Homo sapiens: one gene and its partners. The protein of the gene in region 3 interacts with the protein of the main gene of each other region in a pairwise test. Each region holds a gene or a part of one and is shown on either strand. Other genes may lie near its edges. The genes, in order: FAM124B, BLK and ZNF774.

The links.
Region 1: the proteins of ZNF774 (region 3) and FAM124B interact in binary tests that used the Homo sapiens proteins (3 or more experiments, as listed by UniProt).
Region 2: the proteins of ZNF774 (region 3) and BLK interact in binary tests that used the Homo sapiens proteins (3 or more experiments, as listed by UniProt).

Annotation. Positions count from the first base shown.
Region 1 is NC_000002.12:224,395,508-224,399,257, forward strand, and holds part of FAM124B (protein FAM124B), read right to left. Parts: intron 1-3,750.
Region 2 is NC_000008.11:11,492,422-11,496,171, forward strand, and holds the start of BLK (tyrosine-protein kinase Blk), read left to right. Parts: upstream 1-1,965; 5' UTR 1,966-2,170; intron 2,171-3,750. UniProt on the Homo sapiens protein: Non-receptor tyrosine kinase involved in B-lymphocyte development, differentiation and signaling. B-cell receptor (BCR) signaling requires a tight regulation of several protein tyrosine kinases and phosphatases, and associated coreceptors.
Region 3 is NC_000015.10:90,350,553-90,354,302, reverse strand, and holds the start of ZNF774 (zinc finger protein 774), read right to left. Parts: upstream 2,020-3,750; 5' UTR 1,892-2,019; intron 1-1,891.

The DNA of each region.
Region 1 (3,750 bases), on a different chromosome or scaffold from region 3:
GAGAAAAGCAGAGGGACTGTTTGAACGAATAAAGGGAAGGTTGAACCCACTATCATTTTGCACCCACTAAGAATTGAGACAGCAGAATTAAAACTGCCAAAGGAAAAACAATGTCTGGCCCAGAGCAAGAACTCAACAAAGTTCTGAGGAATGAATAAACATGGACTTGCCTTCTCATGTACTCATACATTCATTTACTGAACATCTATTTGATATGCTCATATCGCTGTCATCAAAACCACCCATTCTAGACTCTGAGAGGCATCAGACTGTCTGCAATGGCAAGAGGTCATGTGGAAAACGCATTGCTCACTGGGCGCGCTGGCAGAGACAGCTGACAGCCTCTCACATGCACAGATCACAATTGCACCGCAGTTACATGGTCTCCAGGAGCTTCTACTTTACCAAGCACCACCATGTACATTCTCTCATTTGACCCTCATAACACAAATAATCCATGTCAGTTCCATTCATAGGACTCATCAGTGACTGCTCATTTCACCAAGGATAGAATAGAAGCTACTTAGCCAGGGTTCATTTGTAGAAGGATGTTTTTGCCTACCATGTGCCAGACACTGACCTTAGGTTCTAGGTTCACAGGAGTGAGCCCAAAAAGTCCCCCCGCTCTTGGTACTTACATTCCAGTGGCTGACCACATTCCCACTGATCTAGCCTCAGGCCACCTGCCCATCCTCTTCCCCTGACTCCCCCTCCCTTCACTCCAGCCACATGAAACCTCAGGAAGTTTGCTGAGCATGGCCTGCTAAGCAGCACCACACCAACATCGTCACCCACGGTCACCTGTTTGAGACACCCTTGCTCCCTTCTCCAACTGGCTAATTCCTCCTGGGCCACCCAGCTCACGCAGATCTGGGCATTGCTACTCAGGAAAGCTTTCTCACTGCCCCTCCTCGGCCTAGCTCCCCTCACACTCAGGTCTTCTGCACACACGCCTCCATCCTGGCCATGTGGAGGGATGGTCTGCAGAGAGGTTAGTTTGTGGTTATGGTTCTTCCTTTAATAGGTATAATTTTCTTACTTTTGCTGAACATCAGCCATTTGGGACCACTCTGTATTTGTCTCCTCCGCCCTGATCTTCTCTGGAGACCCACAACCTTCCCTAAAAGTCCCACAGAACACCACACAGCATCTAGGGGTAGAAGCCAGAGCCTTTGCCTCGGGGCTAAACTGATCCATATAATCTCACTTTCCTGCACGTAATAATTGATTTAGAGAAGAGAATCTGATCCTAGTTGGTCTAACTGAAGTCCAGACATTTTGTTGCGCCATGGTGGGGCAAGGCACTTGGAATCCACATGAAGGATGTAACCCTCAGAGCTGCTAGCAGCCAGCTGGCGACCCTGGCGGATGCCTGGCTGAGGATAGGGCCAAGACAGTGATAACAGAGCTGGGATCTGGATCCTGAGCACACTGTGTAAGGCCTGGACTACTCACTTACAGAAGCCAGACTCGCTACCCAGCCCCTCTCCCCAGGACCCAAGGAAGTTTAGGCTGGATTTTCTTTTCTTTTCTTCTCTTCTCTCCTCTTTTCTTCTTTTCGAAACAGAGTGATATGGTTTGGCTGTGTCCTCACCCAAATTTCATATTGAATTATAACTGCCACAATTCCCATGTGTCGTGGGAGGAACCCAGTGGGAGGTGATTGAATTATGGGAGTGGGTCTTTCCTGTGCTGTTCTCGTGATAGAGAATGAGTCTCATGAGATCTGATGGTTTTAAAGATGAGAGTTCTCTGCACAAGCCCTCTCTTTGCCACCTACTGCTATCCATGTAAGATGTGACTTGCTCCTCTTTGCCTTCCGCCATGATTTTGAGGCCTCCCCAGCCACATGGAACTATGAGTTCATTAAACCTCTTCTTTTGTAAATTGCCCAGTCTCGGGTATGTCTTTATCAGCAGCGTGAAAACAAACTAATAGAGTAAATTGGTATCAGTAGAGTGGGGCATTGCTGAACAGATACCTGAAAATGTGGAAGCGACTTTGGAACTGGGTAACAGGCAGAGGTTGGAACAGTCTGGAGGGCTCAGAAGACAGGAAAATGTGGGAAAGTTTGGAACTTCCTAGAGATTTGTTGAATGACTTTGACAAAAATGCTGATAGTGATATGAACAATAAGGTCTAGGCTGAGGTGGTCTTAGATGGAGATGAGGAGCTTATTGGGAACTGGAACAAAGGTGACTCTCATTATGTTTTAGCAAAGAAACTGGCGGCATTTTGCCCCTGCCCTAGAGATTTGTGGAACTTTGAACTTGAGGGAGATGATTTAGGGTATCTGGCAGAAGAAATTTTTAAGCAGCAAAGCATTCAAGAGGTGACTGGGGTGCTATTTAAGGCATGAGTGAACAGTGAATTAATTCACTCATAGTAAATGAGTCTCCCAATATCTGATGGTTTTAAAAACAAGAGTTTTCTGCACAAGCTCTCTTTGTCTGCCGCCATCCATGTAAGATGCGACTGCTCCTCCTTGCCTTCTGCATGATTGTGAGGCTTCCCAAGCCACGTGGAACTGTGAGTCCAATTAAACCTCTTTCTTTTGTAAATTTCCCAGTCTCCAGCCTGTCTTTATCAGCAGTGTGAAACAGACTAATACACAGAGTCTTGCTCTGTCATCTAGGCTGGAGTTCACTGGCACAATCTCGGCTCACTGCATCCTCTGCCTCCCTGGTTCAAGCGATTCTCCTGCTTCAGCCTCCCGAGTAGCTGGGACTACGGGTGCACACCATCATGCCCAGCTAGTTTTTGTATTTTCAGTAGACAGGGGGATTTACCATGTTGGCCAGGCTGGTCTCAAGCTCCTGGCCTCAAGTGATCCACCTGCCTCAGCCTCCCAAAGTGCTAGTATTACAGGCCTGAGCCACCACGCCCAAGAATTTTCTATCCTGAAAAATTCACTCCATTCAAAGAATCAAAAGCTATCTAGGAGCTACAATGTGTTGTCTTTGGATTATGGCTGAGCCTTTACACACTTTCCTCAGGCACTTTTATTATATGACACCAGAAGCAGAATTTTCCAGAAGGCGATCTCTCACTCTGTTTGCAAAAGCTTAGACTCATTGACTTAACAAGAGGAGATCAAAGCGTGTTTTGGAGTGAGGAAGCAGAAGTCTCTGAGGTTTGGAGGTCAGGACAAAGGTGATGTCCAAGGGGGCTATCAAGAGTGAGAGGCAGCTGGGCGTGGTAGCTCATGCCTATAATCCCAGCACTTTGGGAGGCTGAGGCAGGTGGTCACTTGAGGCCAGATGTTTGAGACCAGCCTGGGCAACATAGTGAAACCCCATCTCCACTAAAAATACAAAAATTAGCTGGGCATGTTGGCAGGCACCTGTAGTCTCAGCCACTTGGGAAAGCTGAGGCACAAGAATTGCTTGAACCCGGGAGGCAGAGGTTGCAGTGAGCTGAGATCACACCATTGCACTCCAGCCTGAGCAACAGAGAGAGACTCTGTCTCAAAAACAAAAGAGTGAGGGGCTGATGCCCCATTCACACCTGAGAAGTGGCCAGGCTCCTGGGACAATCCAGAGAGGAAGAGGGCTCTTTTCATACAATTCATGGAGTTTCTCTTTATCCAAAAAACTCTTCTACACTCCCCAAATGTGACTCAACTTTCCAAAGTAACTAAGTTGTTTAAACTGTGGTTCCATAGCAAAAATGTCAGTCAGCCTTAAAGACAGGAATGATTAAAATCATGTCCCTTGCTGCACACACACATTACATTTTTGTTTGACCATG
Region 2 (3,750 bases), on a different chromosome or scaffold from region 3:
ACATCCCCTCCCACTCTAACCTTGGGTAGACAGACCATGTATTTTCTTTGTAGGATGCTGGGTTTCCTGCTCTCCACTACATTCTCTATACCCTCAAGTCCAAGTATATAAAAGTTGTCCAAACGTCAGCTATTTAGGCCCTATTGAAAAAATGTTAGAGGCGGTTCAGGCAGCGTCACAACATCCTGGTTCAGTAAAAGACTCAGCCTAGGGATCTGTCTCTGAGAGTCTGTAGGAGTCTTAGTCACGAATCATGTTCAAAGCCTTCTCCTTGGCAGCTTCCCCCAGTGACCCCTGATAGAATTATTGCCTCCGCCTCTGGTCTAGCACTGTGCCCCGTTGAGGCCTCTGTGGCTACATCTACTACGCTCCACTGCAGTGATCTGCTTATCAGGCCCCTTCTCCAAGCTCCTTAGGCTGAGACTCTCAGAGGAGGATGGAGTGTAGCTGCGTTGGTATCCCCAGCCTCCAGCAGGTGCTTAGCACAGAGCAGGTGTTCAGAAAAACAGTGCTGCATTAATTGAATTGAAATAGGAAGACTAAGTTACCTCATCTCAAATCAGTCACTTTTTAAATCAGAAGCTCGCAGAGTTTGGAACTCATGTTTCATGTTTGGATCCATGTAGTAGGTATCAGGAAGTGAATGTAAGAGTAAATTAACAGGAGCTGCCATGGACTGAGCAGGCCCAGGGTTCTGGACATTGTTGTGAGCCCTCTGCTACCACGTGGAGAAGATCAGCTTTGGGATTTAAAGCAATTAGCCACATTCACATCAGCTTCCAGGTATTTGCAGTTTATTATGTGCTAAATACTGTAATAGATACTTTTTATGCATGAATCCATTTATTCTCACAAAACCCCTTGGGGAAGTGAAACAGATTATTTCCATAGTGTCTTAAAACCCCAGAACTCTGCGTTGCTGCGTCTATTGACATGAACACCTGTCAAACCTGCAACTCATAGCTCAGTATTGTCTCAGTCCAATCCAAGGAAATGAACTCCTTGAGAAAGCTGACATTCTGGACCATGGGGTAGAAGCTACCCTGTCTGCCTCCCACACCCACTCTCAAGGATCCAAGACTATGAAGGGAGAAGAGAGAGCCCACCGAGTGACTTCCTCTTATAAGCCAATATCAAGACACTAGTGGAAAGGAACCAGCTGACCAGTGGCTCACTGTGTCTGGCTGGACCAGCAAGACTCTGACGTCATCACAGAAGCCTTCTTGGTCCCATTGGTCCTTTGACTGCTGTGTACAGGATGCCACCCACCACTCCAGACACCACTCACCACTCTAGATGTTGGGATCCTTCTCCCGTTACCTCCATTATTCTTGTTCTCTACTCCTCTGAGTTTTCATAGCCAAGCAAATTTCCACCATTGAAGAGGCTCTGAGATCCAAGTCAACTAACTACTGGCTAGGGTACTGTAAAACACATGGGAAATTAGCTTTTACCAAACACCAATTCTATGCCCACCATTCATACCCATTCTACCATTTAATGCTGATAGTATCCTGTGAGCTAGCTATTATTAGCATCATTTAAAGACAAAGCAAAACCAGTGAGGCTGAAAGAACGGCTGCCCTGGTGCACACAGATGGCACATGGCAGAGCCCAAGCCCTCTCCATGAGATCTGCAGCGTTTGTCCACACGGCAGGGCAAATTACCTTGTAGAGTCAGCATGGAGGTTTGCTAACTCTGCCGGACTTGGTGCAGAAAAAATACCAGCCGTGCTGTTAAACCAAAACCCCAGGAGAAAACTTTCTGGTGACAGAAGGGCATTGTGACCCACGTTGCCCAGGGCCAGGGACAGGGCAGCTGCTCATGGTCCTTCCTCACGAGTTTTCCTGGAGCAGAGGGATACCCCCAAACCCAGGGAGCCCACAGGAGCTTCAGAAGGGCTCGGCTGGAGGGCGGGGCCCCTGTTGCACTTGCTCACTGGGGACTGGGGAGGCTCTGATCGCAGACCGGGGGTGCTGCCACCTCTGTCTGCTGCCGGCAGAAAGCCACAAGCCATGAAAACTGATTGAGATGAGAAGAATTCATCTGGGACTGGCTTTTGCTTTAGGATGGTGTTGGAAGTTGCTCGTTGTCGCTAGGAGCCTGCTCCACTGTAAGGGTGTCAGGATCTGAAGAGCTATGGTGAAACACCACTGAAGCATTGCCAAGGTGAGGCCCTGCGTCTTCCGGGTTCTTTATCGTCTTCCTTTAAATTGTGCAAATGGTGCTGTAAGGCCTGTAGTGGGGCAAGCAAGCAAGGACATTGCTGTGGGTGCCACAGACGGAGGAAGAGGCATGAATGGATCGCTGCCTCAGCTATGAATAGATTGCTCCATGGTTTGTGCATTTCCAGTTTTGAGAATTTTTAATTTATAAAAGGTCATCCATCCAGGGTAGATTCTGCTTTTTGGAAAAGGCAGTGAATGTGCCACAGAGGAGAGAAGGGACGTGGGATGTAGAGAGGGGGTTGAGCGGGCACACACAGGCCACTGCTGCGCTCCCGGCGAGTCACTCGGCCTCTTGATAGGAGGTGATATTGACTGTGCAGAGCTGACAGAGGTTAGTGGTCACAGGCGGGGAGCATCTGGCTCAAGGCAAATGACTGTTGCTTTCGTTTTATTTGTTTGTTTCTGAATGAAGTTGTTCCATTTTTCAGGCATTCAGGAATGGGGTAACTGAATAGATGTAATGATGATCTTCTTGTTTAAGAGATCTATTTCACCAGGAAACACCAACTGTGAAAAGGAAAGCATAGTTGATCACATATTTTGAAAGGATTTGTGTAAATTGTAAGGTTTTGACAACGTTTCCATTTATCTGGTAATGCGGGTGGATGAAGTTCACCCTCATCCACCCACATTACCAAGGAACTAAGGAATTGTGCGTTTGCAGTAACAGAAGAAATTGCTGTGATATGTGCATATCCTCCTCCCTCGGGAGAGTGGGACTTAATTCCCCTCACCTTGAGTGAGGTTTGGACTAAGAGTATGGAAAGGGAGAAATAGTAGCTCTGTAGAGGAGAAACCTGCAGATGCCAGCTTCACCAAGGGACCAAGCTTAGCATCACCGGGAATAAGCTGGGCTGCTATTGTGAACTGCCACGACAGTGCGGTTCTTCCCACCAACTCATAACCCCAGTCAAATCATGAGAAAACATCAGACAAATCCAAACTGGGGAAGATTCCACAACATATTTCACCTTCAAAAATGTCAAGGTCATGAAAAACAAAGAAAGACAGGCAAAGCGTCACAGATCAGAGGAGACATGATGGTCAGGACACCCAAACCCAGAATTCGCATCCTGTATTGGATCCTAAAGCAACACCGCAAAGGTCATTAGTGGAAAAATAGGTGAAATTTTAACAAGACCTGGGGTCTCGCTAATATTGTGGTAACAATTACTGCTTAGTTCTGGCAAATGTACCATGGTTACGTAAGGTGTTCACATTAGAAGAACCTGGTGAAGGAAATATGGAAATTCTCTGTGCTATCCCTTGTAATTTTTCTCCAAATCTAAAATTACTGCAAAATAAAGAGTTAAAAAAAATTAGACTCATTCTTCCTCAGAGCAGGAGTAGCCAAATCCTGAGCATTCTTGGGAAAACTGGCGTTCATGGCCTGGTGATCACACCTTCTCTTTGAACATTCTGGAATATAGCAGGCCTTTTGAATTTTTGACCATCCATCATTCTCTCTCCCAACCCCTACCTGATTCCAGAATAGCTCTGTATTTGCCTCTCTTCATAGTA
Region 3 (3,750 bases):
AAAGCTTTTGATTCTCCCCAACTTCATTTTCCTCAGCAAGCAAGGAAATTGTGGCCTTAACTATACTCATATTAGTTATGGGAGCAGCTAACTTCTTGGCTTGCAGATTTGGTGTCAACCTCAAGGGACAGATTATACAGAACCCCAAAGGGAACTGTGTTGGATACCATTCTATTTCAAGATCTTAATGGAGTCAGAAATAAGACTGAAAAAGACATTTTTTTTTTAAAAAAAAGAAGACATGGATAGGTTGTAAAAATAAGTGAAAGTGGGAATAAGCACAAAACACAACTCTTAGGGGCTGAAACCAATCATTAATATATTAATAAATCGACAGCAATATCATGAAAAACATTACTTTTTGGAGGATAGTCAAGAGTGAATTACTGGATGGATCAGTCATTTATTCAACAATTAATATGTTGCCAGGCATAGGAGTCACATAGAAATTAAGATAATGTTTTTTCCCTTAAAAAGTTTCCAATAAACCAGCCTCAGCAACATATTGAGACCTCTTTCTCTACAAAGAACTTTTAAAAATCAGCCAGGCATGGTGGCATGCACTTGTGGTCCCAGCTACTCAGGAGGCTGAAGTGGGAGGATCACTTCAGCCCAGGAGTTCCAGGCTGCAGTGAGCTATGATGGCGCCACTGCACCCCAGCCTAGCAACAGAGTGAGCCCCTGTCTCTCCCTTAAAAAAAAAAAAAATGCAGCCAGCATGACCACCCACTACAAAGAATATTGCATTTCAAGGGAGGAAGGACCAGACTGTGGTGAAGAAGTTTTACTCTTTCACATCTTTTGTCCCACTACAAATCACCTATTTACTACTGGAACACACACACACACACACACACACACACACACACACACACACTTTTGGGGGAAATATTTTTGTATTTACAGACATTATTATTGGTCATTTATAAAGTATTGAGTTTTTAAGGATCTAAAAACCATCTCTCTGGTTTAAAACTTTAACAAACAACAATAATGTAATTAGAAAGTAAAAATTGTAATAAGAGTTTTCAGTATTGGCCAGGTGCTGTGGCTCATGACTGTAATCCCAGCACTTTGGGAAGACGAGACGGGCGGATCACCTGGGGTCAGGAGTTCGAGATCAGCCTGGCCAACATGGTGAAACCCTGTCTCTACTAAGAATACAAAATTAGCCGGGTGTGGTGGCACACGCCTGTAATCCCAACTACTTGGGAGGCTGAGGCAGGAGAATCGCCTGAACCCGGGAGGTGGAGACTGCAGTGAAAGGAGATAGCGCCATTGCATTCCAGCCTGGGCAACAAGAGCGAAATTCCGTCTAAAAAAAAAAAAGAGTTTTGAGTATAATTTTTATTTCTACATTCATTACAAAACACAGCTGCAGGGCCCACTTGCTGGAGACAGCGCCACTGAGGAGGGGAGACGTCTTAGCCACGGTTATAGAAACCCTGTTTCCCAGCCCGTCCCTTTCCCCATGCACAGGTGACCTCAAAGGCCCCACAGCGCTGAGGGGCTGTGACTAAGTGCCACTGTGAGAAGCTCCAGTGCGTTCACCGGGTTTATTAATAGGAACATGACTGCACGCGTGGGGCCGAACCCCGTTCTTCTTCTCGGTGCTCGCGCCCTAACCGGGGTGCGGCGGTCAGAGGGTCACAGATCAGCTGAAACCCTGGGACCACCATCGAGAAGCAAGAAAACTGATTAAGAGAATGACTTATCCCGCCGACGGTATAGAGACCACAGCTACCTCTCCCACAGCCCAGCAAGACCCGGGGGCTCCCAAAGGCCAGCGCGGGAACCCCGCTGAGAAAACGTCTGGGTGGCGGGCAAGCCCCCTCCACGCCCCTCAGCAGCGCGCCGCTGCCGCCGCGGTCTCCCTCCTTGAATCACTCACCGCCCCAGGGCCCAGCCGGGGATGGAGCAGGAAGTGAGTCCTCCACCGCCGAGCCGCACCCGGCCCGCAACCCCGAGGCTGTGCCTCCCAGAACCCGACCGGGATTCGTGACAGGGCTGTGGGGACACAGGTGGGACTCCGGCTTCGACAGCCAGCGGCCGGAAAGTACCGCCCCCATCCTCTTGCTATTGGCTTTTCAGTTTCCATGGCTAGAATTTTTCTCTGTCCATAGGCTGATAGAGCTGTCAATTATCGCCTAGCCTTCTGGGAAACGTAGTCCCGAGCAAGACCTCAAAGGACTCGGAGCCGTGGATGTCCAGTTCCAAGCGTTGGAAAGTGCTAAACCCAATTCCCCAGCTACCGGTCCCCCGGAACCGCCTGTTTGGAGCCGAGGGATCTAAATGCTGTATCCTCACTGTGGCATCTGCAGATGTGAATCTCCTGGCCTCACCCACCTACCGCGGAGCAGCCTGGTGCCCACCATGAGGTCTCCCGCGCTCTGGCACTTCGCCCCTCCCCAGCGCAGAGCAGCTCAGCCCTCGGGCCTTTGCGGCCTCTCTTCTGCCCAGTCTTCCACCTCATCCCCGGCGGCCGGAGCCTGCAGGGTGTTTGCGGAGGCCAGGTCCCAGACCAACTCAAACTGGACATTGGAAAGGCCCAGCAGAAGCCCTTAGTAGAAAACAGACATTCCGCATCCTTCCCTTGGCATCAAACTCCCAGGCACATCCCCTTTCCGTCTGGTTGATAGCCAGAGGAGGCGGGCGAGGGCATCAAGTATTCTGGGAAATGTGATATCGGGCTTCAAACTGGGGAGGCTCCTGGGTCTCATGTGAGAGCCAGTGATCACTTTGGGTCGGCCCCTAGCTAAAAAACAACAAAGTCTTTCCTTAAAGTGAAGAAAATGTGCCTGTCTACTCCGTTTGTTGATTCAGTGCAATTTAGAAAAATAAAAGAACATTTTGTGATGTATTATAAAACGCTTAGAATTACCAGCCATAGAGTTTTTTTTTTTTTTTTTTTTTAGACGGAGTCTCGCTCTGTCGCCCAGGCTAGAGTGCAGTGGCACGATCTCGGCTCACTGCGAGTTCTGCCTCCCAGGTTCACACCATTCTCCTGCCTTAGCCTCCCGAGTAGCTGGGACTACAGGCGCCCGCCACCACACCCGGCTAATTTTTTGTATTTTTAGTAGAGACGGGGTTTCACCATGTTAGCCAGGATGATCTCCATCTCCTGACCTCGTGATCCGCCCGCCTCGGCTTCCTAAAGTGCTGGGATTACAGGCGTGAGCCACCGTGCCCGGCCCGAGTTAATGTTGAAGATCCCTTTGATGCTAATTCCACCATTCCTTCAACAAAAATAAGGTGCATTTTCCAGTGGATATTTATTGGGAACATTCTGTTCTCAAGATCGTTCTGGGGGCAGGGCGTGGTGGCTCACGCCTGTAATCCCAGCACTTTGGGAGGCCGAGGCGGGAGGATCACGAGGTCAGGAGATCGAGACCATCCTGGCTAACATGGTGAAACCCCGTCTCTACTAAATATAGAAAAAATTAGCCGGGCGTGGTGGCGGGCGCCTGTAGTCCCAGCTACTCGGGAGGCTGAGGCAGGAGAATGATGTGAACCCGGGAGGTGGAGCTTGCAGTGAGCCGAGATCGCGCCACTGGACTCCATCCTGAGCGACAGAGCAAGACTCCGTCTCAAAAAAGAAAAAAAGAAAGAAAAAAAAAAAAGATCGTTCTGGGAACTGTGATTACTCGGGAATCATACATAACCATTACCTTCATGAAGTTCACAGGCCAAAAGGGGAAATAAACCATAAAAGGTATCAAAATCCTAAGTAATTTTTTTTTCCATATAGCC